Linked DNA regions of Homo sapiens. The protein of the gene in region 1 interacts with the protein of each later gene in a pairwise test. Each region holds a gene or a part of one and is shown in the gene's direction. Other genes may lie near its edges. The genes, in order: TRAF3IP3, TGFBR2, GRAMD2A and CDCA7L.

Region 1 (7,207 bases):
TCACAGCCAGTGAGACCACCTTTCTTATGAGCCTACAACAAAAAGTAACTTGTCCCTTGCTCAATGCTGGACCCACAAGAACGGATCCACAGTTATTTGAGCCTTATGGTTAGGCCTTTCAGATTCTTAGAATCTAAACAACAGATAAATCTCTTGCTAATATTGAAAGTCTCTTACAGCATAAATTTGAGGTTTCATTACACGAAAAGGCTCTCTACCAACAATGATGATACAAAGCAAGCAAAGACAAGAGGAGGACTTAGAACTCTGTCCTGCCACAAATGTACAGTCATAACTCGACAGAGCAGCAACCTTGCAAACGTAGGAGTCAAGGAAATACTTGTCTTCCTCCTGGTGAGTTTAGACTGTATCATCTCTGAGAATGAATATTTGTCTTTGGGATGTTTGTGTGGACATCTGAGTAAACAGTTACCAGCTAGACACTTGGAAAACTAAGGAGGAGAGTCTGCAAGTCACCTGATAAGGAGAACTTGAACTTGAATGCGAACAGACTTAAGTATGCCTGCCCTGAGCTGTTCTGCAAAATTTGGAGTGCCAAGGCCGCTGTGGACTATCCTATTAAGAGTGTCTGCAGCACTATTCTAGAATGAATAACTTAGACTTGAGGAATGCGGTGCTGAAGAAACCTTGTCAGGAGTGTAGGGAAGGATTCTAAGGCAAGAACAACTCTTATGAATGAGGTTGCCATTTCCCAGAAGATAGGTAGGAGTCACCCTGTAGAGTGGAAAGAGGAGTGGGATTAGAACTGGTAACACCCATGAGGGGACCCCCATAAAGTGTTTAACTTCATGGTGGCTCATGCCTGTAATCCTAGTACTTTGGGAGGCTAAGGCAGGTGGATCACTTAAGGTCAGGAGTTCGAGACCAGCCGGGCCAACATTGCAAAACCCCGTCTCTACTAAAAATACAAAAAATTAGCCAGACGTGGTGGTGCATGCCTATAATCCCAGCTACTCCAGAGGCTGAGGCACCCGGGAGGCAGAGGTTGCAGTGAGCTGAGATCATGCCACTGCACTCCAGCTTGGGCAACAGAGCGAAACTCCATCTCAAGAAAAAAAAAATTTTTTTAACTCCTTAGTGCTGTCTCTTGGAGTATGGGAGAAGTCATATTAGCATATAGTTTAGTTACCCCAACTGTACAATAAAATCTGATAATCTTACACATGCTTGTGTGGTATTGTGAAGCAACCAGGCTATAAAGGAAAGGGTAGCTTACCCCATACTCATCGCCTCATGGGGGACTACACAGGGCCCAGCATCTATCAAGGAAACTGTTTCAGAATATGACCATCAAAAAAGGGAGCCGTTGTTCCCATTGAACCTGGAAATGATGAGGAGAAGCAAAGGATACTGGCCACTAAAAGCCTGGTGCCCAGCTCAAGAGCAGCCTGAATTAAACCCTCTATTGGAGGCCAGCTGATGATTACACTACAAATCTCTACTTGAGCTTAATTTGGTAAATTCATTTTCTTAAATCCATTTTATCTAGATTTTAAAAATCATTAGCATAGTTACACAAATGACTCTCTATAATTAATTTCCACCGTATCGTGGCTACTTTCCATGTATCATTCCTAAACTTTTATAATGTCTTTTCTCTTTTTTAAATTGATTTGGCTCGCTGATATTTTATTTTATTGATTTTGTTTTCTATTTGTATGTCTACCATTCCTCCCCCTGCCAGATGCACACACAAAACTGAATTTTTTTTATCAATTTTAAACAGGATTCTAACTTATTATATATTCTCCTTTTATCATTTCAAAATTCTCACCTCCTTTTTTTCTGATCATTTTTTAGCAATTCATTTGAAAATAAATGAATAGGAAATTTATTTTTAATCTTCTTGATTTAGGTAATGAAAATGTTTAAAGCTAGGAATTTTCCTTGCATTCTGCTTGGCCATACCTCACAGATTTTCCTCATAATGTTGCCACTATCACCGTTTTCAATGCATTCTTAATTGCAGATTTGAAATTCCCTCTATCTTTTCAGAGTAAATGGGAAGAATTTTTTTCCAAGAAGTTAAAGTGTTTCTTTCTTCCATCTTTTGTTATTTATTTCAATTGTATTGTACTGTGGTCAGAAAATCCTGCCATAATAGATCAACTTTTCAAAACATATACTGAGGTTTACTTTTTGATCCATATGGTCAATTTTTTTAATGTCTCGTGGGCATTTGAAAATAAGGTATATTTTCTATTCTCAAAGTTCTGTGTGTGTGTGTGTGTCTTTTTCAATATAGATAGATAGGTATGACAACCTTATTAATTGTTTTGTTCTCAGAACACAATGTTAAGGGCTCAAACCTACTGTCAAGCAAACCTGGGTCCAACACTTTCTGTGTGATCTTGAGCATATCATTGACCACTCTAAATCCCAGTTATCATGGGATTAGTATCCCAATGACTGCGGACTTTGTAGACATTTCTTTCTGATGTTTAATGGAGTCCAAATAGTAGGTCTCTATAGGAACTCCTATTAAAATCTCCTGTCTTTCTTTACGCTCTAATGCCCTGAACTCCCAGAATCTTCTCACTCTTCTATGCCAATAAAAATTCTCTGGCCAGGCGTGGTGGCTCATGCCTGTGATCGCAGCACTTTGGGAGGCCGAGGCAGGTGGATCACCTGAGGTCAGTAGTTTGAGTCCAGCCTGACTAACATGGTTGAAACCCCATTTCTACTAAATACAAAAAATTATCCAGGCATGGTGGCGTATGCCTGTAATCCCAGCTACTCAGGAGGCTGAGGCAGGAGAATTGCTTGAACCTGGGAGGCGGAGGTTGCAGTGAACCGAGATCGCGCAATTGCACTCCAGCTTAGGCAACAAGAGTGAAACTCCGTCTCACTCTGTCGCCCAGGCTAGAGTGCAGTGGCACATTCTTGGCTCACTGCAACCTCTGCCTCCCAGGTTCAAGCGATTCTTGTGCCTCAGCCTCCCAAGTAGCTGGGTTTACAGGCACATGCCATGACATCCGGCTAATTTTTTATATTTTTGGTAGAGATGGGGTTTCACCATGTTGGCCAGGCTAGTCTTGAACTCTTGACCTCAAGTGATCCACCCACCTGGACCTCCCAAAGTGCTGGGATTACAGGTGTGAGCCACTGTGCCCGGCCAAAATTCTCTTTTTCTGACATCTTGGGCTCCCCAAGCCCTCTGTCCTCTACTCATTCCCATCTCTATGTGTCAAGCTCCAGACACAGGGCCTTGAGCTGTTGTCTCTCATCCTGAGTAAATGCCACTTGTCTTCAGTCCTAGTGCTTGAGAATCCATCCTCTGCTTTTCCCTGCCGATTCCTTGTCCTTTTTCTCCTCAAAGAACAGAGAAAGAAGCAGAAGCAGAGAAAATGGTGACAAACTCTCCACATGTTAATAAATGTTATCACAGCTATTTTTAAGTCTCATTACCTGCCTCACATGTGTCAAACCTTAGAATTCCAAAGAGCCACATACATCACCCAACTACCACAGTGAGTAGCATCCAGACAAGGTGAATTTTACAAGGTTACAAAGCTGCTCAGTTAACTTGTCCCAATCCAGTTTCCTCTCCACTATTTTAGCCTGAACTTCTTGGGAATTTCCTGGCTGCATCATTTGTGATGGCTTCATCTTAATGCATGCAAATCAGTTCCCTTTAGTTTTTCCCTAAATTTCCTAGTCCGGTTGACCAGATAAAAAAATGTGTAGAAGACTCTGCCTTCTATTCCTTCCTTCATCCCCCAGCTACCCACCTTTACACTCCCTCCTCATTGCTCCAGAAAGGAGCAAATCCAGAGTTGGTCTCATTCCAGAATCTGAGAAAGACACCACCTACTTCAGAAGAGCAGAAACTCTTTACAACACCAGGATTGGGAAGAGGTGGCTAAAGAAAAAGGAAAATCCTTACACAAAGAACTACCTGATACACATGAAAGCCTACACTGAGAACATCTCATCTAGGTCTTACCACCAAAAAGGCATTTTTTTCCCTCTCATAGAAACCACAAAGGTCTGAATCTGACCCAGAGGACTATCCTTTTCTAATCATGGAAAGGAATCTTGACTTGAAACTGTCCAAGAGCTCCGACCAATCCAGTAGCAAGAGAAAGGGTGGCCGGGGTGCCTACTGATGGGAGGAGCTCCTGAGCCCAGCCCTGGAGGCCTCAGAGTTCAGGGGCCCACTTAGATGATACCAGAGAGCAAGAGAGAGGAACTGGGGTTTGCGAACCTTGTGGCTTTGTCTGTTTCCTGTTTCAGCAAGGCTGCTGTGCAAAAAGAAAGACGGTACCAAGAAGGGACGTGTTAATGGGGCCCAGACCTATGGATTGAAAGCGTGTGCTTTACCCATCTGCTGTCTTGCTCCATCTGAGACCAGAGCCAAGATCTGCCCAGGACTGGAATGCTTTCCCGAGTGGCTTGAGTTGGAGCCTGGGACTAGGAGGTAACTGAGAAGGAGGATGCTTTTGTGTCCAGGTTTGGGAACTCCAACTTCGGGGTAGGGCAGAAGATGCTCTACCATCCCAGCTCCCCTGGGTGGAGAGTGGGTGGCATAGTTTAAGGGTGTCAGGGGTTTGGGTAACCAAGAAAGTATCCTGTATTGGTTTCCTGTGGCGCTAGCCATGGCACAGGGTACAGCTTGCACCACTCCTCTGTTCCAGTAGATTAGATTACATTAGATTAGGAGTGAGTCAAACGACTTAGAGTTCAGGCTACCCAGTGATATGGGCATGAATTAAATGACCTTTTACAGTTTTCTTCAAAGCAGGGATCCCTGAACACAAGACTGCCTTCCCAGCAGCTTAAGCGCAGGCCCCTCTCCCCTCAGTTCACACTGAGAGCTCTGGGCCAGGAAGGCCAACCCATGCAGGAAGCCATTCATTGTCTCCATTACAAACATGGCCAGGAAGTAAAAGCGAGACTCAGAAAGGCATGTCAAGCCACAGTCAGGTGAGGAGCCATGCCCTGTTCTCTCTCTGCAGCCTGAGAGACCAGGCTGAGCCTTCCCAGCCAGTAAACCTTCTTCCTCCAAGCTCTAAGTGAGCCCAGTCATGCTGCCAGGGGGGAACCTGAGAGATGCCAGAAAGCCTGGGCAGTGGCCAAGTGATCTTTCTTTGAACCCTACAGGGACCAGTTCCCTTTTCTTTAGCAGCCTACCCCTGTCAGCCGTCCCACATACCTTCTTGTTTTCAAGCAAGTCAGTAGGGTCCAGATATCCCAGAAACCTGGGTAGGGTTCTATGCAGCATGCTGCACCAAATCCTAGCAGGTGTGGTAGCCAAGGCATCTGGGAACACTCCCCTCTCTAAGGAGCCATTTCCACTGCAGCTCCTTTCTTGGGTAAGAAGGCTCCATGTCTGCCCCAAGGAAGCAGAGAGCAGAGCAGCTGTGTGTTTCAGTGGACTAAGGTTGGTGGCCTGGGTGGAGAGCCCAGAGAGACCTCATCTCAGGCACTGTCTTCTCCCCCACAGCCCTTTCCTCTTCGCGGCAAGAAGGTAGGAGGATTCTCAATGTTCTGCCTCCACTACAAAACCTGTGGGGAAGCTGAGCCAAACAGGGAGGGGACCTCACACCTTATGTGTGACACAGGCAGACCCCATCTCTTCCTTACCTTTCGGCTTGGTGTAATTGGGATGGCAATTATGTCCAGACCACAGAGAAGCCTTTCTCCTTATAGCCCAAACCCAGAGGTCAGAAGTAAATGTGACTTCAGCCTGGGGCCAGCATCCCCTCAATCTGGTAAACAATATACTCTGTCAAAGAGAGAGAGGGTTGAGAGGATGAGAGAAGGCATTCTTGGTCCTAGAAGTGCTAGTTTAGCTTGGAGCCTTTGTCTTACAGCACCAAGTCTTCAATATCCAACATCGGCATAACAAGGATAATATTCGCAATTACTTTTGCACCAACCTAATAGGAATACTTTATGTCTTTATTATTAAAAGGTAACATTTATTGTGTGCTCCATGCCAGGTGCATGGCCTGCATTTTGTCATTTAATCCTTATAACCTACAAGGCAGGTCCTAGCCCCATTTTATAAATGAGGAGACTGGGGCTTAGAGATGTTTAATAGCTTATCTAAAAACACACACAGGTTGTAGGTGACAGAGCCAGGACATGAGTCCACGCAGTGTGACTCCAAGAGCCAGGGTTCTCCACTGCAATCCATGGCAGAATAGCCAGGGGCTGTGGCTCAGGGATGCTGTGAGTGTAGGTTCTAGACATGGAGTTCACATGCACATAATCCTGCGTCTCCTCCATTCAGTCATTTATAACAATAGACATGGGTCTCTCAGACCCTTTCTTTTAAGTCTTTAAATAAAGAAAGTGGCAGGGAAGAAGTCAAGGGACCACCCCCTATGCCCACTCCCACCCTTATCCGAGAAGAAGAAGTAAGGAAAAACAAAGAAGAGAGCCATTCAGAATGGGTATGTAGAGGACAAACATTAATAACCTCACATTTCTGCTTGGAATCAATGCTGCCTGACACCAGAGTATGCCCCTCCAACCCTCAAGAGTCAGGCATTTGAGTGTCCAGGGCTTGACCACACAAAACTCCTCTCAGGGAAGAAGACTGCCCCACCCATGACCCTGGGGAATGAGTGGTAGGATCAGAGAGAAAACAAGAATCCTGCAGAGAATTCCAGACTGAGCCAGAGTAGCGAAGTCCCAGTAAAGGGGCAGAGAGTCTGCTACCTGTTGAGTCTGTTTGGCCTATAAATAAACCCCAAGGGGTTAGAGCTAGCAAATGCCTGCTAGTTGGTGAAGCTGAGATACCCTCCTCCCAGGGTGGTGGGTAATGAGGTCGTGGGAGGAAGAGAAGCAGCAGCAGCTGTGAGGGGGAGTCCCTCTTCCTTCATCAGTCCCTGGTCTGACTCCAGTGATCAGAGGAGGCAGGACACAGAATTTCCAACGCTCAGGATCCAGCTCATCCAAATCCAGCCCAACTCAGCAAAGTGACCAGAGGGTTCTAGGAGGATAAACTACAGAAGGTAGGTGGGGAAGAGTAGGAAAGAGAAAGGCACAGAGAAGGAAAAGGGGATTCAGGTCTAGGTGCTATGTGAATATCAGGTAAGGCCATGCAGAGGGTCATCCTGTGGCCCCTACACCAAGCCTGGCTCCCTGGAAACTTCTGATTACTGTCTTTGTTTTGTTTCTTTTCTGTTTGCAGCAGCCTTATTGAGGTACAATTCATGTGCTTGTGGGTTTGGAT
Region 2 (7,026 bases), on another chromosome or scaffold:
AATTGCATACACCAGATAATTCTAATCTGATGTGAAGGAATTATTTTGCCTTTCTTCAGATTCATTCTCATGACATCAAGTTCATTTGAAATTGCATAACATCTTCAGGAATTCATTGGCAGGCTGCCTGGCAGTTGGATAATCATTTAATATATCTTTCTCTCTCCTCAGTTAATAACGACATGATAGTCACTGACAACAACGGTGCAGTCAAGTTTCCACAACTGTGTAAATTTTGTGATGTGAGATTTTCCACCTGTGACAACCAGAAATCCTGCATGAGCAACTGCAGCATCACCTCCATCTGTGAGAAGCCACAGGAAGTCTGTGTGGCTGTATGGTAAGCAAGCCTTTTAAGAAGTTATTCTTTCTTTTCCCCTTTTTACATAATGTATTCTCATAGTACACACAGTCAGTGTATCTCTGTCTCCTAAATGTAAACACCTGTTCCATTTCCCTTTCCTTTAGACCATCTCTCTTTCGATTATTAAATGTAGTTTCTAGGGGTGTTCTCTGCATGTATGTGTACGTTTATGTGGGTATATAAACGTATCATGATTATAAAATGATCATGATAAATGTAAAGATCATAAAATGATCTTTAATATAATAAATCTGGAAACTCTTTCTTGTATCAAGAAGAGGGATTTGCCGCTTAGTAGTCATTTAACCGACACCTCCTCAGCACCCCATAGTGAGACCAGGAGCTTTGTTCTCTTGAGGCAATCTCAGGTCTGGAAGAAGAGGTGATGAAAGGTTGGCTGTTGGAAGAGAAAACTACCAGCCAAAAATGGGGAATCTACTTGGAGAACCACAAAAACAACCTGTTTTTTTAGTCAGAAATTCTGGTTATATTATTCATATAACCATTGGGATAGATATGACTTCTTTCTCTCAGCTCAGAACTACATATTTCTTTTTTTTTTTTGAGATGGAGTCTTGCTCTGTCATTCAGGCTAGAGTGCCATGGCACAATCTTGGCTCACCGCAACCTCCACCTCCCAGGTTCAAGCGTTTCTCTTGTCTCAGCCTTTCGAGTAGCTGGGATTACAGGTGCCCACTACCACACCTGGCTAAGTTTTGTATTTTTAGTAGAGACGGGGTTTCACCATGTTGGCCAGGCTGGTCTCGAACTCCCGACCTCAGGTGATCCACTCGCCTCTGCCTCCCAAAGTGCTGGAATTACAGGCATGAGCCACCATGCCCGACCAGAACTATATATTTTTATCGGATCACATTTTCTCCTCTCTCTCTCTCTCTCTCTCTCATTCCCTCCAACTCATACATACATCTCAAATAATAATTATACATACACAGTGGATACTCATGAATCATTTGATTAATTCATGGTTATAGATTGTGAGCATGAACAAGAAATAACCTTGATCTTTAGAAGAGTTGTAATTTTACAAAAGTACATAAATTCATTAATGAGATATGACATTTTGCAGACTTATTCTGATGTTTTTAATTTATTGGCCATTTTAAAAAAAGTAACTTATGTGTCTCCTGGCTAGTTGACAAACAAGAATATAAACCCAAATATCTCTCCCCCTTTTTTGGGAATGAGTCATTTGAGACCCCTAGACCATGTAAAGCTAGCCTTGATGATAGATCTGGAAACCTTGCAAACTTCTGTACATACCACGGGATGAACTGGTTTCTTAAGAACTGAAGGAATGTTAACAGCAAAGACTTGTCATGACATACTTGCCAATATGATATGATACCTGTCCATGTCCACTTCTAGGTAACGCTTTCAAAGAAAGGATTTGGACAAAGAATGTGTTCAGAGGAGAGGGACCAGTGTGGTTAGAGGCCTAGAAATCATGCTGTCTGAGGAATGGCCTGGGCAATTAGACATGGTTAGTACAGTGAAGAGAGATCGTGGGTTCTGCTGATGAAATTGAAAGGCTCTCAGGTAGAAAATATAATAAACATATTCTGCATAACTCTGAAGGGTAGAGGGAGGATCCATAACATTTGCAAGGCAGGCAGACTTGTGCTCAGCATAAGTTTAGACATTTTCACAATCATGGTTTCCCAACAGCAGAACAGGCTTCCTTTTCTGTAAGCACCAAGTGAAGTTCAGGAGAGGCTGGATGACCATATGTCAAATAGAATGCAGGAAAGATTGAGACACCAGACTAGATGGCCTCAAAGCTTCCTTCCGTGGTTTCTTAAATATCTACGGTGGTGTGAGCACTTGCTTTTGCAACCCAAAAAGGCTCTTTTAATTAAGATTTTTGTTTTCCTGACCAGTAATACAAGCCCAAATCATTAAATGTGAATCAAGTCTCTCTAGAATAGAGGCTTTGCTAGCCTCAAAAAAATGTGAGCATGTCGAAGAGAGGAGGCCTCCCTGTCTTTTCTGTGTCCCAGCTATAAAGGGTAAATACAATGAACATTATTTTGACCTGTGCTGGCCAAAGAAAATTCTCCCGTGAAGCCAGGGGTGTTGATAATGAGAAGGGGAAGTATAGGGTACGCTATAGTGCCCTCCTTGATCCTCCTTCATGACCAAGGCACTCATTCCCTGGGAGTGTTGGCTGTTGAAGGATCACTGCTGAGCCTTCCCTCCAGTGATGGGAGCTGCCTCATTCACGTTGGACACTTTTCATGGGTAGCCATCATCCCATGGCTAGTTGATGCAGAGAAACAAATTCCTGGTTATTTTGCCATAATGTGGTACATCTTTGAAGGACATCCCATTTTCAGAGTTTCCAAGGCATTCACTGAGGCCTTTGCTGCAACCTGCATTATAGTTTAGCTTTTTCCTTCTGTGCAATACTGTTGCCTTTAGTCGCTTACAGATGCATCTCCAAAAACCTCCTGCACAGAACTCTCACAGCCTCAAGGTCTGTTTCCAGGAAACCTAAACTAAGACAGGAGGCTATTGTAAAAATAGCCAGTGTGGAAACTGAAAGGCTCTACTATGATTGTAGATTTCAGTGTTGTTGTTTTTTTAATCAGTTTTAGTGTTTTTTCATTCATTCATTCATTCATTCATTCATTTAACTAATGTCAGTTGTGTGCCCATTCCATATAAAATGCTTAAGCTGCCTCCAAGGATAGAAATATTTTATAACCAAAATTATTATTATTATTATTTTTAAATTGAGAGGGAGTCTCCCACTGTTGCCCAGGCTGGAGTGCAATGGCGTGATCTGGGCTCACTGCAACCTCTGCCTCCCGGGTTCGTGCGATTCTCCTGCTTCAGCTTCCTGAGTAGCTGTGATTACAGGTGCACACCACCATCACGTGGCTAATTTTTTGTATTTTTAGTAGAGATGGGGTTTCACTGTGTTGGCCAGGCTGGTCTCGAACTCCTGACCTTGTGATCCGCCTGCCTCGGCCTCTGAAAGTGCTTAGATTACAGGCATGAGCCACCGTGCCCAGCCTCCAAAATTAATTTTATCATGTTGGTTCTTCTTTCAGTGGAAATTGACAACCTCTTCAGTGGCTCAGAGCAAATGTTGCAGGACAAAAAAAGAAGTCCGTATTTACTTCTTTGTATTTACCTTTCCTATGCTCAGCTATATCCAAAAAGAGTTTGAAAAGTTAGCTGTGCCTGGCTGTTACAGGAGTGAGTGGAGAAAGCAGTTAAGGGCTTTACCAGGTCTCAAGTATTACAGTTGTTTTCTCTCTGTGATGTTAGTTCTCTCAGTAGCTAAGAGGTAGAAAACCGGAGGCTCTGGAAGAGCTGCCCAATAATTATAGAGCAGCTTTCTTTCATGGCTCACAGTTCCTTCTTAGGCCTCTATAAGCGTCACAAGGAAAAGAGACCATGCCTTTCTGTGGGCACAGCATACCTTCGTTTTATTACCCAAACCAAAAACAACCTACACACACACACACACACACACACACACACACACACACACACAAAACTGTGGGGGCAGGGAGGAAGGTGTTCTTGTTCCATGACTACAGCTGATTTGAAGACTGCCAAGTAGCTTTGGGGTTAAAGATGGGTAGATTTCCAAATTATACATCATTTGTTGTATGATCATGCCAACTTTCATTTAGTTTCATTTGGTGTCCTGATAGCCACCCTCAACCAATTATTCTGCTTGTCACTCTTCCTGTCACAGCAGGGACCAACTTAGCAAAGCCTTGCTCCTCTTGTGTCTTTCGGAATTCTAGTTTAAGAACCCTTGAGCCCCTTCACAAGCAGACACATGTACCTCCACTGGAGTCAACTCTGGGCTGCATGGATGTTGACACTGGCACCATTCCTGCCTGGATTGTCCTAACCCATACCCTTGCCCTTATCCCTTTGTCAACATATTGTCCTTTAATGTCCTTGACTTAAGCACTAAAAAAGTGGTATTGGTCAAAGTTGCTCTTTCTCTCATGGGGATGGCCCCGCATCTTTTATAGGTGCAAGCTGTGTCTTAGCTGCTTCTTGCTTCTAGCCTGCCTTCCGTTTTCCTTGCTGTGAGCAGTGAGCCTTTGTGCATGGGGCAGGGAGGATTAGGGGAAAATTGGTGAGTGAGTACATGCATGCATTGGCTCATGTGTGCACTCAGAATCTTCATAGAAGATTACTCTAGCAAAACTGACTGGACCAGATTAGCCCTTCCTTCCGCTCCCTCTCTAGACAGAGAGAATGCGATTCAAGACAACAGGTATTTTGCATCTAAAAAGGACAGAGGTGAAAGGGTGGATGTCAGACTAGCCTTGTTGGACAGTCATCCAAGATAGTATGTTCATGAGGGAGCAGAGGGAGGTAGATAGAGAGGTGATACCCTTTTCCAAGAGAGCCAAAATGTTCTTTTGTTCAATTATAATAGTGGGCATTAATCATGTTGTTTAAAAATCTAATGTACACTGACGGCCAATTGAGCATTTCCTAGGGCCCAAGGAAAATGCTATGTGAGAAATTCTCTGAGCCCTGGGCTAAATTAGTCTTCAAATATGTGCTATGAAGTGATACTGTCAAAGTAGTTAGTTTATGACAGCATAAAATATTTCATTGAACTGTAAATGAAGAACACCCTGACATCCCTTTCCATTTCTTTTATTTATTTGTTTTTTTTGTTTGTTTGTTTTTTCTGAATTGCTCCTTTCTGTAATTTGGGAAAGACTGCAGTTCTTTATCTGCGATGTTTCTTCCCGTTTTTCTCAGCAGAACCAGCTGTTGACAAGGAGTATACCCTTTACACGCAATGCTCTGGGGCCCAGCAAACAAAAAAAAGAGGAACTGTGACTATTTCCCCAGGCATGCTCTTTGAAAACAGTATAGCTAGACAGGACAGATTTTGCCACTTAAACTAGGGGTGTGATGTGAGGTTTGCATTACATTCAGGATGGAAGATTTAAAATTATCCTGAGTACCTAGGAATGTTCTTTTTTTCCATGTCTTCCCCTTTAATGATTTAATTAAGACTTAAATATGTAAAGTTCTCCACCAGGACTGCCCCGTGGAACGCTGTCTGCTCCAGGTGATGTTTATAATCACAAATGGGTTCCAAGAATAAACAAAGGAAAAACAGAAAAGAGTAGAAAAGCATAGGAGACTATAGGACAGCCTGCGAATGCTGGAGAACAGGAACCAGCTGCCGTTGTTAGGAACAACTTCATGAAGGAAAAGTATTCCAGATTGCCTTTCTGTCTGGAGGCCATATTATTCATTTATTCTCTTTCTCTCTCTCCCTCTCCCCTCGCTTCCAATGAATCTCTTCACTCTAGGAGAAAGAATGACGAGAACATAACACTAGAGACAGTTTGCCATGACCCCAAGCTCCCCTACCATGACTTTATTCTGGAAGATGCTGCTTCTCCAAAGTGCATTATGAAGGAAAAAAAAAAGCCTGGTGAGACTTTCTTCATGTGTTCCTGTAGCTCTGATGAGTGCAATGACAACATCATCTTCTCAGAAGGTGAGTTTTCTTCTCTTAAGGGTGTGGGACCTGAGATCTGTGCCAATTTTTTGTATCCTTGGTCTGCAGTGTCATAGAGCACATTCCTCCTGTGGTGGATTGCATACAGTGGATTAGGAGCTCATTCAGCTGGTGGAAAGAGGGGCTTGGGGAGTAGCAGGGTTTGTTCTGGTTCTCATCAAATATGGTTGACTGGGGCAAACATTATTATTTGTCTTTGACAAATAGTTTCTTTCACCTAGAGCAGTGTTTCTCAAAGTGCGGCCTCTTGAGCAGCCAGCATCAGTATCACCTGGGAACCTGTTATAAATGCAGATTCTCAGGCCCCACTAAATGAGAAACATAGAGGGTGAACCCCAGCTATCTGTATTTTAACAAGCCCTCCCAGTAATTCTGTGCAGCTAAAATTTGGTAACTATTGTTCTAAAGATTTGGATGGGGTTGTTTAATCTTGGAGGAGGACTTTCTTTATAACTGATGTTGTTTCTTGTACATAGTCCCAGGATTTGTCTTTAGGGTACTTGTCATCGATCCCATTTGAGAGAAACATTGCAATACAGAGAGGAAATAATAAGCCAAAGTTTACCCCTAGAGCCAGGAGAAGAGTAGATTAGATACTAGCCTCCATCTTTGAAGTTCAGCGTTTACTCAGCTTGAAAGGAAGGCATACACTATTCCCTCAATTTTTAATAAGAAGAGAATTCAGTGGTTTTTAATTACAAAAGTAGTATATGCTCGTCATCAAAAATTTCAAACAATCCAACAGTGTGTGAAAATTAAAAATGAAAGTACATTTTCGTCCTCCCCTCACTCCCAATGCAACAGATCATCTGTATTGACAATGTATTAGATGCACACACGTCTCTATCATTCATTCATATTATCTCCCACTCCATCCTCTCTCCCAATCTCTCCCTGTCTTCCTTTCTCTTTCCCTCCTTTCATCCATCTGTCCATCCTTCCATCCACTCATCCATCTTTCAGTACAACTATCTGATCATACTATAAATATTATTTTGCAACACTTTTTTATACCCAACCACTTTTACAATTCCTTCTAAACAAGATAGAACACATAGATATACTGTACATCTTTTAATTTAGTCTCGAATTTCATATTATCTCCCACGATGGATCTTAT
Region 3 (7,026 bases), on another chromosome or scaffold:
ACCATGCCCAGCTAATTTATATATTTTTAGTAGAGATCGGGTTTCACCATGTTGGCCAGGCTGGTCTTGAACTCCTGACCTCAGGTGATCCACCTGCCTCAGCCTCCCAAAGTGCTGGGCTTACAGGCATAAGCCACTACACCTGGCCAGGAGTTGGCTTTTAATTTAAAGAGACTTGAAAGTTGGCCGGGTTTGGTGGCTGAGCCTGGTCTGAAGGCAGGAAAGCTCCTCCCTGGAGTTGTCGTGAGCGCCTGCTGCATGCTCAGCACTGGACTCAGGGGATTCAATGAAGGACCAGGCAGAGTCTGTGAGCCCCTGGAGATGCACAGTCATGGCACACAGACACAGTGTGACAGATGCTGAGCAGAGACTTCCGATCAGGGTGCTGTGAGTGAGTATCTGAAGCAGGGACTACTCACCTAGGCTGGGGGAGGGCTGAGGGAAGGCTTCTCTCCCTGAGACAGTCACATTTGAACCTAAGGATGTGTTTGGTTTAGAATCCATGCAAAGACATGGTTATCTATGCAAGATTAGATAATCCATGCAAGATTATAATTATACCCAGTTTCTAAGGCTCAGCTTCCTTTTCTCTAGGAACCCCACTGTATTTCAGTTCCCAGGGATCTGTGCATCCTCTGAGCTCCTGCAGTCCTGAGAATTTGACTCACATTCTCAAGCAACAGGCTCCCTGCCTCTGAAAGCACTGTCCAAGCTCCTTCCCATTGTCATCCCGTTCTATCCCTCATCCATCCTTCAGTCTGGGATGCAGGTTCTTCAGAGCTGAGCCCACAGAATTTTTCCCTGGCGGCCCCATGGATTCACTGCCAGGCCCACGCTGTAATGGCTCAGTGGTCTGACTTGCATATCTACTCCCCCCAGGCCTGTCCTGTGAGAGGACTGAGACCAAGCGAGAAACATACATGGAAGAAATAGATGGAATCTCCCATGCAGTAATTACACACAGGCACAGCAGAAATACCACAGACAAAAGAGAAACGACAAACTGGGGAAAACATCACAAAAATGATAAACTAAGGATTAACGTTCTCAATAAAGAATTTACAGGCCAGGTATGGTGGCTCACACCTGTAATCCCAGCACTTTGGAGAGGCCAAGGCAGGTGAATCACCTGAGATCAGGAGTTCAAGACCAGACTGGTCAACATGATGAAACCCCATCTCTGCTAAAAAATTTATATATATATAAATAAATTAGCCAGATGTGATGGCAGGTACCTGTAATCCCAGCTACTCGGGAGGCTGAGGCATGAGAATCACTTGAACCTGGGAGGCGGAGGTTGCAGTGAGCTGAGATCACACCACTGCACTCCAGCTTGGGTGACAGAGCAAGACTCTGTCTCCAAAAAAAAAAAAAAAGGCTAGGCATGGTGGCTCACACCTGTAATCCCAGCACTTTGGGAAGCTGAGGTGGGACGATTGAGCTCAGGAGTTTAGGACCAGCCTGGACAACACAGTGAGACCCCCGCTGTCTACAAAAAAAATGAAAACCTTAGCCCGGCATGGTGGAGCATTCCTGTAGTCCCAGCTACTTGGGAAGCTGAGGTGGGAGGATCACATGAGCTCGGGAGGCTGAGGCTGCAGTGAACCAAGATTGCGCCACTGTACTGTAGCCTGGGCGACAGAGTGAAACCCTGTCTCAAAAAAAAAAAGGCCGGGCGTGGTGGCTCATGCCTGTAATCCCAGCACTCTGGGAGGCCAAGGCAGGGGGATTATAAGGTCAGGAGTTCGAGACTAGCTTGGCCAATATGGTGAAACCCCCGTCTCTACTAAAAAATACAAAAATTAGGCACAGTGACACACGCCTGTAGTCCCAGCTACTTGGGAGGCTGAGGCAGGAGAATTGCTGGAACCCAGGAGGTGGAGGTTTCAGTGAGCCAAGATCACGCCACTGGACTCCAGCCTGGGCGACAGAGAGAGACTCCATCTCAAAAAAAAAAAATAAAAAAGCCAGAAAAAATTTATACAAATGAAGAAAGAACTTCAATACAAATGAAGAAAGAATTTCACCTGTGAATTCTCTATAAGACAATGAACTTCCAGTGGTTAATAATTATTTGGAAAAAACTGTTCAACCTACCAGTAAGCAGAAATACAAATGAAGACAACGTATTTTCACCTATCAGATTTGCAAAGGTGAGCGAGAGACAATATCCAGAGAAGGGCATGAATATGGGGAAACAGGCACCTTCATGTCGTGCTGATGGCTGGGTTAACTGGAACAGCATCTGTTCATTCTCAATCCACTAATTTCACTTCTGAGAATCTATCTTAGGAATGGACAGTGAGTGACATGGGAAATTTCTCATGAAATCAGGTTAAGCCACAGAAGTAGGGTATACAAATTATAGATTATATAACCATTTACATAGGTTATATGTTTATCATACATTTTTTATTTGGGTGATTTTTGGGGAATCTTTAGGTGATTTTGATCTTATATATATTTTTCATATTTTCTATAATCTTTAAAAATCAAGGGAAAAAAAAAAACCTCTGTGAAATGTGACATGATGGAACCAAATAAATCCAGAAATCAACTTTGAGAGTCAAATCTCTAGCAAAATCTGTCACTTCACAAGACTGTTGTAGGTATATGTTGATATGTGTGGCAAAATCCTCTCTAAGGTTGAGGACAGAGGTAACCAGGCCACATGGCCATGGCTGGGCTGATTTTGTGGGTGAGGTCACTGGCTGTTCACTGTAGGACCGGACACAGCCTGTCCCTTGGCAGGTCTCAGTTTCATAATCTGTACAATGGTATGGTGGGAGCGGGTGAGGCTGAATCAATCTCTGAGGGTCCTGGCAGATCTTGGGCTGAGGCGAAAACTCTGTTCTTGAAGAAGAGAACTTTGGCTGGCCTCAGTCACAGAGCGGAGGGTGACTGAGCATTGAGATTTGTAGGTTCCAGGCTCCAGCTCCTAATCTGCAGCAGGACCACTGCACGTGACCTTGTTACCTGTTCCTGACCACCACACTGCCCCAGCACGGCCCTGCTTCTTGGCCACCCTCTCTTTCTTGGTCAGCCCCTGGGCCCACTTGGTTGGGGCTGGCTTGACGGCTCAGGCTTTATTGATGTGTAGCCTGGAGGAGCAGGAACAGGGTAATGATTCTTTGGAGCGATTAGTGGAGGCAGGAACTCAAAGGCCATTGGAGAGCCCGACCTGCCCAGGGAGAGAGGATCTGTTCCCTCCTACGCTCTCCCTCAGGGACATTTTTGAGATGGTTTGGCTCTCATCATCAAGCTGTCCTGACTGTCCAAGGTGGCTGAGGCCACTTCCTGGTATAAGACGGCTCCTCCCCTCCTGGCCACACTCACCTGTAGGCTGATGGGCGTCCACCTCCCACACCTTCAGCGCATCAGCTCCTGAGCTTTGATAAGGCCTCCTGTGCTCAGCCTACTTTCCCGGAACCTGATGGTTTACAGTCATGCTGCGCGGGTACTTTGGACACTTTTGTTCTCGGCATAAGCGAGTCTCAGGGTCCTCCCTCTCAGTGTGCCTCCTCAAGGGTGGGGCTAGAGGCCTCACTCAGCCTGGCCTACGAGCTGCCTGGCACTGGAGATGAGGTAGACAGGTTGATTTTCCTCCCAGCCTAGGCATAAGCAGAACTTCTGGCTTTCGGGAAAGACGCTGTGTGAGACCCGCCTACTCCGTCAGCCATCCCAGAACCTCTGCCTGCGCTGCTGCCTCTGAACTGTGACATTTTCAGTGTCACCCTCAATATCAGGGCCAGTCTTGGGTGGGGGCCAGAGGCAGCGGCCATGGGCATGGTGGGGCTGTTAGGGAAAGGTGTCCTCATGAAGCCCCCTTCCTGATATGGGCCTGTTTTTCCCTAGCAACCAACAAATGCACAGAAAGACAGCTTCTCTGAACAGTCCTGTGTCCTGCAAAGAGAAACCAGACAGAGTTGAGGAGCCCCCGGACTACAGGTGAGGACCCCTTTCCCAGTCATAGATACACACAGACTAGAGGGTGGGAAGCCCTCAGGAAGTGACCTGTTTGTAAGAGGACCTCAAGGCAGAGCCGGGGCCCCTTTGCAGGTCTGTGAGGTCAGGCACAGGCTGCCCCAGGCTTCTTCCTCCCGCCCCTCAAGACTGTCCCAGTGCACTGGGACCTAGCAGAGTCCATGCTTCTCGGGTTTCCAGCCTCCTCCCTGCTCACCTGTGCTCTGGGCCAACCTGGCCAAGGCAAAGGTTTACCTTTTTTTCTCAGTGCCATCCCCCTCTCCCAGTGTGGTAGCCTCAGCCAGGTCAGGTGAGTCTGTGCCAAGCTCCCCGCAGCAGAGCTCAGGCCACAGGAAGGAGGCGGCAGGGAGGGCAGTCCTGCTGGCATCATGGCCTGTGGCCAGGCCCCGGCGCTGTGAGTCTGACACCTTCACCTCACCCACACCCCAAACTGTCCCTATTCCAGCACTGCCTGCTCCCCTGCTTACCCCTTGGCCAGAGAAATGGGACAGGGTCTTTGACACCCAGGTGGGAAGCTCCTCAGCATCTCTGGGAGACCAGGCGCACCTCCAGGAGATGCTGCTCACCCGCACTGGGGAAGGTGGGCCCTTGGCGACCCCTCTCTACCTCCCGCAGTGCCCTCCCCCAGGGATGAGCTGTATAGTTTAGCTGTGTGCTCGCTGTACTTGTCATTTTGCTGTGTCCCCTAGAGAAGGGTCCTAGTCTCTGATCTCTGCCTCAAGCTTCTGGCTCAAGGCCAGGGCAGAATTGGCACTGAGGATGCATGGGCAGGACTGGGGTTCCTTGTTCCCGAAATGGAATGTCTCCTTTGCAGTCTGCACTGGCCAGAAGGCTTGAAGGGTGAAGAGATAAAGAAGTGTGGCCGAGAAGGGGTAAGTCTGGAGGCTGACTTCTCACTATTCACCCAGGAAGGGGTCCTGGGCTGCCAGAATTCAGTGACTTTTGGCTCCTTGGCCACCGGGCCTGTCATCAGGAAATCAGGAGACCTGAGTGTGTATCCCTTCCTGGGTGGGAGTAGTGTGTCCCCCTCTGCTAGTACAAGCTGCCTGTCAGGACCTAGCAGCACCAGGAGACAAGCTGTGCTTGGCACACAGCCCTCCATACTCACTGGCTGCTTACTAGCTGCCTCATGCTAAGTCCCCAGCATGGGCCGGGGGGCTGTGGCATTTCCTGTTGGCTGGAGCAGGGCCCCTTTGGCGGTCTCATCTCCCAGCGCTTCTCAGACGCAGCCTGTGTGTTTGCAGATAACACTGAATAAATACAACCAGCAATACCACAAGCTGTTTAAGGATGTTCCCTTGGAGGAAGTGGTTCTCAAAGGTGAGCTGTCTCCCGGTATAGCTGGTTAGGCACCCAGAGTGCCTGGGGCCAGGGGCCTCTGCTCTGGAGCCTCCAAAGCACGACTTAGAAATGGGAACTGGCTGTCCTTTAGATGTGGACCACTCCCCTAGAATGTGAGAAGACTGGGCTGGTGAGAAGACTGGGCTGGTTTGGACATAGCATTGCATTTTTGAAGGTTTTCTTGGGGAAACGTCAGGGCTTTGGAATCTTGTGTCCTGCTCTTACTGGTGACTTCTTACCTGCTCTGGCCTCTCACTGAGCAGGTGGGGGCATTTGCACAATCAAGGCCCTTGGGGCAGAGCAGAGCAGGGAAAGGTCAGGGATTCTGCCTGAGGTGGTGAGAATGCAGGCTTGGAGATCAGGGCAGGAACTTGCCTGGACCCTCTGGAGCAAGGGTGGAGAAGGAAGAAACATCCAGCAGGCTGGTGGAGTGGAGGAGCAGTCAGGAGAAGGACCCTTCGACGCTGGGGAATGGACTGTTTGGGGTTTGGGGCCTGCGGTGGGGAAGGGGGAGTCTGAGGAAGACAGGTCCTGAGGCTGGACTGTGGACTCCAGAACGTGAGGACCCAGGTCCTGGGGCTTCCTGGGCTGACCTTGCTTATGGCCATTTTCTCTCCTGTGACATCCTAGTGTGTTCCTGTGCCCTCCAGAGGGACTTCCTCCTCCAGGGCCGGCTCTACATCTCCCCCAACTGGCTCTGCTTCCATGCCAGCCTCTTTGGCAAGGATATCAAGGTAGTAATGAGTGGTGAGGGCTGCCATGACCCTGTGAGGGGAGCCAGCCTCCTGCCCCACGGGCATGCCTCAAAGTCATGCCTATCTCTCTGCGTGCTGGGCCCCGGGTGAAGCCCCTTGCTGGTTGGATGCGCAGCTTCGAGGCATCCCATCCAGTGTCCAGGAAAGTAGTCCTGCCCCTTCAAAAACAGGGGCCCAATCTGGACCCCACATCTGGCCTGAGCTGGCCTGAACAGTTCACAGCCAAATCATTCTGCCTCTGGGTATTTCAGAAATGCTTTGAGAATCAGAGTGGGATATCACATTTAGGCGGAGCCCTAGCTGTGGCCAAGAAGTAGCCTGGGGAGCTCCATTACTAGAGTATGAGATTTACCAGAGCCACCATCCTTGGCCTCCTGGATAACAGGGATCATACCTATGTGACAGCCAAGAGTGACACATCCTGCCAAGGCTGGGGCAGGGTGGCAGGGACAACTGGAAGGGGAGCCTGGATGAAAAGGTAGAAGGTTCAGAGACTTCCCCACATGGGGCCAGGCTTCCCCATGGTGGCCATGCTGGGCTCACAGCTGGGTCCCTAGGCAGGGAGCAAAGGGACCACGTCCTTGGGGGTTAGTCCTGAGAGAAGCATCCCTCTCCCTCTCAGGTGGTCATTCCTGTGGTGTCTGTGCAAATGATCAAAAAACACAAGATGGCACGGCTCCTTCCCAATGGACTGGCCATCACCACCAACACCAGCCAGAAGGTCAGTGCACTGGGCCCATGCTCCCTTGTCAGTCTCCCGCTCCCAGCCCTGACAGCCCACAGTCTGACTCGGGCACATTCCCAGGTCTTTATTTCACCCCACCCTGCAGCTCTCCAGTAGGTATTTCAGGCCGTACAACAAGCTGGAAGAGAAGTTCCTAGGCAGAGCTTCTGTTGGCTCTCATGGCCTGATACCCCTGTGGGCCTGTGCCCAATCCACAAGGGG
Region 4 (7,026 bases), on another chromosome or scaffold:
ATTCACACTGTTAATTCCAATAAAGACAGAGTAGACAAACAGAAACTGTACATGAAAGGAATAGCATGAAGTTGTCGATTTTTAACAAGTATTATAAATAATGAAACGGTCTTTTCACTTTCAGATGAGAATTTTCCCTTTTTTTTTTGGTTCACTAGATAGTAGTTATCCTAATTCAGAAGTTCAACTAATGTAAATATCCATTGATTGAGAAATTTTGTATTTTTGTTGTTTTCAGTTACTTGTTGTAGTTTTCTTTTTGGTGAGTCTTATGATTGGCTTTATTGTAATAGAATGGAACACAAACTTTGAAAAAAAAAAAAAAAGGTCTTGCATTTTTGTCTAGACTATGCAGCTACCCAGTGGATCGCTGCTGAATGGAACAGGAAAGTGACAGATCCTTGGGCCTAATGTATCACTGTGTTGTGGAACTGGTCATTCATTAGAAGAGGTCCCTGTGTATCCTTTCTATCAGGTCCTTCTCATATAAATCTTGCTGCCTTTGTTGCATCTGTTAGACAAATCAGTTCGTTGCATTGAGGACACTTGAATATTTTACAGTTTTTTTTTTTTTTTTGGCAAATCTTGAAGCTTGTGACTATCTGAAACTCTTTTAATACCTTTTGAAGGATCAGAGCCCTGCGTACCCCAGGAATGCACACCGTTTTTTTGAAAGTGTGCTCTTTCCTTTTGTTCCTAATCAGTAATTATAGCCCCCTAATGGTACCTCTGGAGCAGATGCAGAAGTCAAAGATGCAGAAGGAGGAATTAGCTAGTCAGACACAGGCTCGCAGCAGTGGTGGGGCTGAACACAATAGCACAGGGACTAATGCAGTTGCTGCTGGAAGCAGTTTATTCCTATCACCAACCCTCTCCATTCCTTGTATGTATTTCCATTAAATCCATAAATGGGGTGCTCCTCCTCCTTTAAACCATTTATGTTAAAAGAAGCTTCTGGGCCAGCAGGGCTGTTTGAATTTTGTAGAATGGTGAGAAGGCCAAAAGAAAAAGACTGAAATTGACACACTGTCCCTCTTAGTGCCTCTGCAGGGACTGAACTCAGTGGCTATTATGTAGCTACAACATAGGCACACTTTCATAAGTATTGTCTGTGTTTCTCTAGTCTGGGTGTTTTCCTTGCGTATTAGTTCTGAGTGCTAAACAACAACAAAAGGTGTCTTTGAAAAGATAAGGTGGCAAACATTGTTTAACATACCTCCTTGAGAAAAGTTTCAATATTTTCCCCAAGAATGATGTCAGAGTTAGGCTTTGCTAGTGCTGCACTACGTGTGGCTGGTAAAAAAATTGTTAGTGGAACTCTACTTCTGTAAGTGTTGTTCTTGTTTGTCCCTTGCAGTGATTTTATTAGATGGTGGGAAAGTGTTTGTATTAACCCTTCAGCATCACTGAACTTGGGGTATCCCATTTCTGTATTTATGTTACACTTCCTTTGATTGAACCATTATTTTCTAATTATTTTTAATCAAGAAGCATTAAAATAAGGATGAAAGTAAATAGATTAAGGATTACCAGTTTCCTAAATGGAACCTGACTAAATGTAAAATTAAGTCAACACACCCACACAGAGAATTCCACGAAGCTAAGTAGCTTTTGAATACACAACTCTGTATATGCTAGTGCAGTGGTCAAAGTGTGAGATGGAGGACCTGAGACCCTTTCACGGGTCCATGAGGGCGAATGTAATGTCATAATAATACTAAGATTATTTGCCCTTTTTGCTGTGTTGATATTTGCACTGATTGTGCAAAAGCCAAAGTGGAGAAAACTGCTGATCTTTAGCATGAATCCAGGTGGTAGCAACAAACTGTATTAGTAGTCATTGCATTCACCTCCATGCACTCAATTTAAAAAGAAAATGTCAGTTTCACATAAGAATGTTCTGATGAAACAGTAAAAATTATTAAGTCTCAACTGTTAAGGACATCTTTTTAATATACTGCATGATGAAATGGGAAGTACATGTGAAACATTTTTGCATAACCATGTACAATGATCATCTGGTTAGCTGAAGGAAAAGATCCTGTGTATAGTGAGACTATGTTCCAGGGCTAGAAAGAACTGCAAAGAAATCTTGAACTGCACTGTTTGTTGTTGGTAGTATATTGGTGGCGTCAGTTTGGCGCTATTTTGTGTTTATTGTAGATAGAGCACCACATGGATAAGTATATTAAAAATTTTGGGAATCGAGGGTTTTCCTTGTGGTGGAACGGCGATGCTAATGTGAGATGAGGGAGAGATGAGGGAGCAGAGGAAGAAGCCTCCGTGTTGGATTTGAATTCAGGGTGTCACCATGAACTTGTGATTTACCTATTTAAAATATCCTTGCTCTGTCCAAAGAGCCTACAAGCAGTGATACTTAATTAACCGAGATGCATTGTGTTCTCCGAGCTTGGTTTTTAAATGCCATTTCCCAGTGAAAGGTTTCAGGGCTCCTTGGAGAAATGGCTGATTTGAGGTCTGGGACAGGAAACATACAAGGTTAGCTTGCCATGCTTGTGTCAGAAAGCAAGGAGGTGTTGAAAGACCCTTAGTGCCATGTCAGAAAGACAGAGGATGACTTTCCAAGAAGCTCCCAATGGCCAAATTTGGGACAGTCAGCATTATGAGAGTATGGATTATAACACATTTAATAATAATTTTTAGAAATCCATGGATATACATGGTAGAAGAAAAGGGGGAGAGTGAGAGAAAGACTATATTATACAAGAATGCCAGCTACTTTGTGAAGGAGAGAGAAAATCTGAAAATTTCTCTTTTGCAGTCCCTAATGTAATAATTCATTCAAGGGTGCCCTGGCTCATGCCTGTAATCCCAGCACTTTGGGAGGCTGAGGTGAGAGGATCACTTGAGGCAAGGAATTTGAGACCAGCCTGGGTAACATAGACCCTGTCTTTATTAAAATAAAAAATATAAAAAAAAAGAATTGTCAATGGACGCTGAAACTGTTGAGCAAGATGTTATCAGGGAGGCTATTCACAGAATCTCAAGTCTCACTCTGCATATTCCTTATTAGTGACAAAGGAGAAAGGGTGTTTTTTGTTGTTGTTATTGTTTTTTGTTTTGTTTTGTTTTAAAAGCGAAGAACAAATCAGGCTGATTCCACCTTAACTTATTGACCAAACAGCAACATCACTAAAAAAAGAGACAGCCAGACCTTATGTGCTTTCCAAAGGAAGAACATAGCACTTCCTAAAAAGTAGTCTTGGCAAAAGCAAGCCAACTAGAAGTAAAGCCTCCGGATTCAACTCCCAAATTGTAAACCCAAATGAGTCTGTTAAACACCACCTTGGGGATGCAAAAAAAATAAAACTTCAGACTTGGACAGACTCCACAGTCAAGTGACCCAGCTTCTTCAAAAATAAACTGCAAGAGAAAAGAGATAAAGGAGTGATGAGAAGGGATTTAAGAGCCATGTTGATCAGTGTGAACCTTATTTGGATCATGATGCAGATAAACTAAGTTTTTAAAAAATGAGGCAGAAGAACTGTGAATACAGACTGCACATTTGATGATGATACAGAGTGACATGATACTATGTCTACAGTTGCCTCACAATAATTTAGAAGAAGGGGAGTTGGGTCGGGATCCAGGGGAAGCACAGTTAGCCTTGGGCAGATAATTACGGGGAGGATCAATGTGTGCTCATTACAATATCTTCCCATCTACTTTTGAAATATCTTTGAAAGTTTTTATAATGAAAAATTTTTTAAAAATTACTAATTAATAGTGGGATAACTTGACATTTTGTGCCCCCTTATGCAATGCATTGAGGAGTACATGTCACCTATGTAGAATGGTGACAAAAATACATAACCTGAATCTAATCATGAGGAAACACTCAGATAAGCTCAGAATACATGACATTCTACAAGGCAGTTGTCATGGTCTATCTAAAAAGAAAGTCAGTGTTGTGAAAAACAACAAAAAACAGTGTCATAAAAATCAAATAGAACAGTTGCAGATATTAAAATATAGAGTTACAGTAAATCGTACTATTGAATTAATGTTAATTATTTTCGGTACAATTATGGTTTTGTGGTTCTATGGGAGAATGTCCTTATCCGTGGGAGATATGTGCTGAATTATATTCGGGCCAATCAATACAATGTTTGCAAATTACTTTAATCAATGTGTGGGAATATATGGATTAGGTTGGCTCATATTAAATTGCTATTTTCCTAAGTTAAAAACAGCCAAATATCAGCAAATGCCCATGGTTCAACCTAATATTTGTTGAAACAGAGAAAGAAAGCAAATGCAGTGACCAATAATGGGTCTAGATAAAGAATCAACAGGTGTTTGTACTATTTTTTCACATTTCTGTGTGTTTGAACTTTTTTAAAACAAAGAATTGGGAGAAAATAGTCAACTTACAAAAATGAACTCCAGCAGATACATATTTGTGGATTAAGTGTGCTGACATTGTTCTCTCTGGGATCAATTATCCCCTAATAGCATTTGAATTCTGTTAGAATTAATCCCCAGCTACTTAAGTTGACTTACAATATAGAAAAGAAGAAAAGCTACTTATTTCATTGTATGAACTTTCTACTTTCTGAATCAGCCTATGACAAAGAAGAGAAAAATAAATAGTGTAGGTGAACATTAAGAAAAGTGCTTAATGATATTTTATGGCATCTTTTTTATGTAGATGACATTTAAAGATGCATCCACTGTAGGAGAAAAAAGAGATCATTGGTTCTTAGAAACAATTTTTCTTTTTGTCAAGAGATCAAACATGTCTTCTCTCTGGCCTGGTTTTAACATTCTCTGTAAAATAGGGTGTATATCTAGAATTTTAAGTTTTATCTCCCCCACCCACCCCACACCTTATTTTGCCATGAGTTCTTAGCTGAAGAGTGTTTTGCTGAGGGTTACTGGGGACTTCTGGGCAACCGTGGCAGTTGGATGAAGTGATGAGATCTCTCCTCCCCTCCAGAAAATGTCCCTAAGTGATTAGCAAGAACCCCTGGTTTAATCCTGCCTCTTTTGAATCCAAAACAGATCCCTAAAGAAGTGGCTGACATCTTTAACGCCCCCAGTGATGATGAAGAGTTTGTTGGCTTCCGAGATGATGTTCCCATGGAAACCCTCTCGTCAGAGGAGAGCTGCGATAGTTTTGACTCACTAGAGTCAGGGAAACAGGTATGGATGATTCCTTCCAAGCAGATGTGTTCATCTGGAGGCCTGAATCTTGGTTTGGATGTTCTTTTATTTGAACATGGTGTGAGATTGGTGATATCAGTTCATTGTCTAGCATTTTATTTTAGAAACATTATGTCTGTGTCTTCCTGTTTTAAAAAACTGGTGAGAGAACCTCGTTCACTTTGCTGTGTTAATCCTTCCCTGTACCATAATTCTTTTTTTTTTTTTTTTTTTTTTTTAAATAAAGGGACCTCACATGATCAAGTGCATTTTCTTGGCTGCCTTGGGGCTGTAACCTGTGGCGAGGCTGTGTTCAGGGTCTTCCCACAGAGGCGAGGCTGCGGCGAGGCATGAGGGATTGTGTGGTTACGGGGAGACAATTACACCTCTGTGGTCCCGTGGTGCAATTCTGTTGGCATGTCCTCTTGGAATTGCTGGGGAGAGCCTTATTCTTGCGTTAATTACTTTGATCTCTAGCACTCACAAGTTAGAGTTCTCTGACAGGTAGATTCCTGGAGGTTCACATTGTGTCCTAGTAGTAGAATGGCCAAAATCTCTACCCTTCAGTGGCATTTTCTTCTGAGTTAATTGTGGCACTCAAAATTCCTCATTCTGCCTTGACCATGGCCTCTCCAAAAAGGCAGCAAATTAAACCCACTTTGCTTCCACTGGGCAAGTCCAGGAAGGGAAGCAGTTAATTATATGTAAGTGAAGTGCCTGCTTAATTACGTGGGCCACTGTAAGTTCTGGCCTGGTGGGAGCTGTGCTTTCTGAGATCTCTGGAGGCTCCCTGGTCTCTGTCGTCCTCATCTCATTTGGCATCTCCACAGCAGTTGACCCCACCAGTAGACCTCCTTCTAACCACCTGGGTTTCTTCCTCTCTGTTACACCTTTTGCTCTTTGTTATTATTATTTTCTTTCTTTCCAAGATGGAGTATCATTGTGTCACCCAGGCTGGAGTGCAGTGGCATGATCTTGGCTCACTGCAACTTCTGCCTCCCGGGTTCAAGCAATTTTCCCAGCCTCAGCCTCCCGAGTAGCTGGGATTACAGGCTCCCACCACCACGCCTGGCTAATTTGTGTGTGTGTGTGTGTTTTTTTTTTTTTTTTTTTTTTTTAGTAGTGATGGGGTTTTGCCATATTGGCCAGGCTGGTCTCAAACTCCCGACCTCAGGTGATCTGCCCGCCTTGGCCTCCGAAAGTGCTGGAATTAGAGGCGTGAGCCACTGTACCTGGCCTGCTTTTTGTTACTGTCACTTGTTTTCCCTGTTCGTGTCCCTAAATGCAGATGTTCTCTAAGGGTTTGTCTTCAGTCTTCTCACTTAGTGAATCTTGTCTGTTGTCCTGCTTTGAGCTGTTACTGTATTCTTTTGTGGAGCTTGTCTTCTCTCTCCAGCCCCAGGTGGTTTCTGACTACCAGTTGGACTGGTCCTGGTTGCTAAGGGAGATCTGAAACTCACTTCTCCTTCCCTTGGTTGTCTTTCTGGCTTCCCCCTTTCCCCATCTTGATTTCCATCTTTTGTTCTTGGCCTTCCCTCCCCTCTTCCATCTCCTTGACTCCCGTCCAGGAGTTGATGAAACTTCTGCTGTGTTCCTGGTGTCCATCCTTCCCTTCCCTCTGCAGCTGCCGTAGCCCTCGTAGCTCTTACCCGAATGCTCATCCCTTCCTACTAGGATCTGTTATAGGATTGACCTCCGGTCAGCTCCTCCCTTAGCCCTCCATCTGAGCACAGTCAGGCGGTGGGGAGAGCAGAGCCTGTTGGATCCACCTTGAGGAGCATTTGAGCAAGGCAGAACATGTCTAAAGGGCCGAGCACAGAGCCTGGCAGGCACCGGGCATTAAGAAACAGAACAGCTGCT

The links.
Region 2: the proteins of TRAF3IP3 (region 1) and TGFBR2 interact in binary tests that used the Homo sapiens proteins (3 or more experiments, as listed by UniProt).
Region 3: the proteins of TRAF3IP3 (region 1) and GRAMD2A interact in binary tests that used the Homo sapiens proteins (3 or more experiments, as listed by UniProt).
Region 4: the proteins of TRAF3IP3 (region 1) and CDCA7L interact in binary tests that used the Homo sapiens proteins (3 or more experiments, as listed by UniProt).

The regions. Positions count from the first base shown.
Region 1 is NC_000001.11:209,751,869-209,759,075, forward strand, and holds the start of TRAF3IP3 (TRAF3-interacting JNK-activating modulator), read left to right. Parts: upstream 1-4,184; 5' UTR 4,185-4,441; intron 4,442-6,629; exon of another isoform or gene 6,630-6,986; intron 6,987-7,165; 5' UTR 7,166-7,207. UniProt on the Homo sapiens protein: Adapter protein that plays essential roles in both innate and adaptive immunity. Plays a crucial role in the regulation of thymocyte development.
Region 2 is NC_000003.12:30,644,576-30,651,601, forward strand, and holds part of TGFBR2 (TGF-beta receptor type-2 isoform B precursor), read left to right. Parts: intron 1-171; coding exon 172-340; intron 341-5,694; coding exon 5,695-5,885; intron 5,886-7,026. UniProt on the Homo sapiens protein: Transmembrane serine/threonine kinase forming with the TGF-beta type I serine/threonine kinase receptor, TGFBR1, the non-promiscuous receptor for the TGF-beta cytokines TGFB1, TGFB2 and TGFB3.
Region 3 is NC_000015.10:72,166,769-72,173,794, reverse strand, and holds part of GRAMD2A (GRAM domain-containing protein 2A), read left to right. Parts: intron 1-2,393; exon of another isoform or gene 2,394-3,855; coding exon 3,856-3,948; intron 3,949-4,798; coding exon 4,799-4,856; intron 4,857-5,228; coding exon 5,229-5,304; intron 5,305-5,955; coding exon 5,956-6,059; intron 6,060-6,702; coding exon 6,703-6,801; intron 6,802-7,026. UniProt on the Homo sapiens protein: Participates in the organization of endoplasmic reticulum-plasma membrane contact sites (EPCS) with pleiotropic functions including STIM1 recruitment and calcium homeostasis.
Region 4 is NC_000007.14:21,914,894-21,921,919, reverse strand, and holds part of CDCA7L (cell division cycle-associated 7-like protein), read left to right. Parts: intron 1-5,025; coding exon 5,026-5,166; intron 5,167-7,026. UniProt on the Homo sapiens protein: Plays a role in transcriptional regulation as a repressor that inhibits monoamine oxidase A (MAOA) activity and gene expression by binding to the promoter.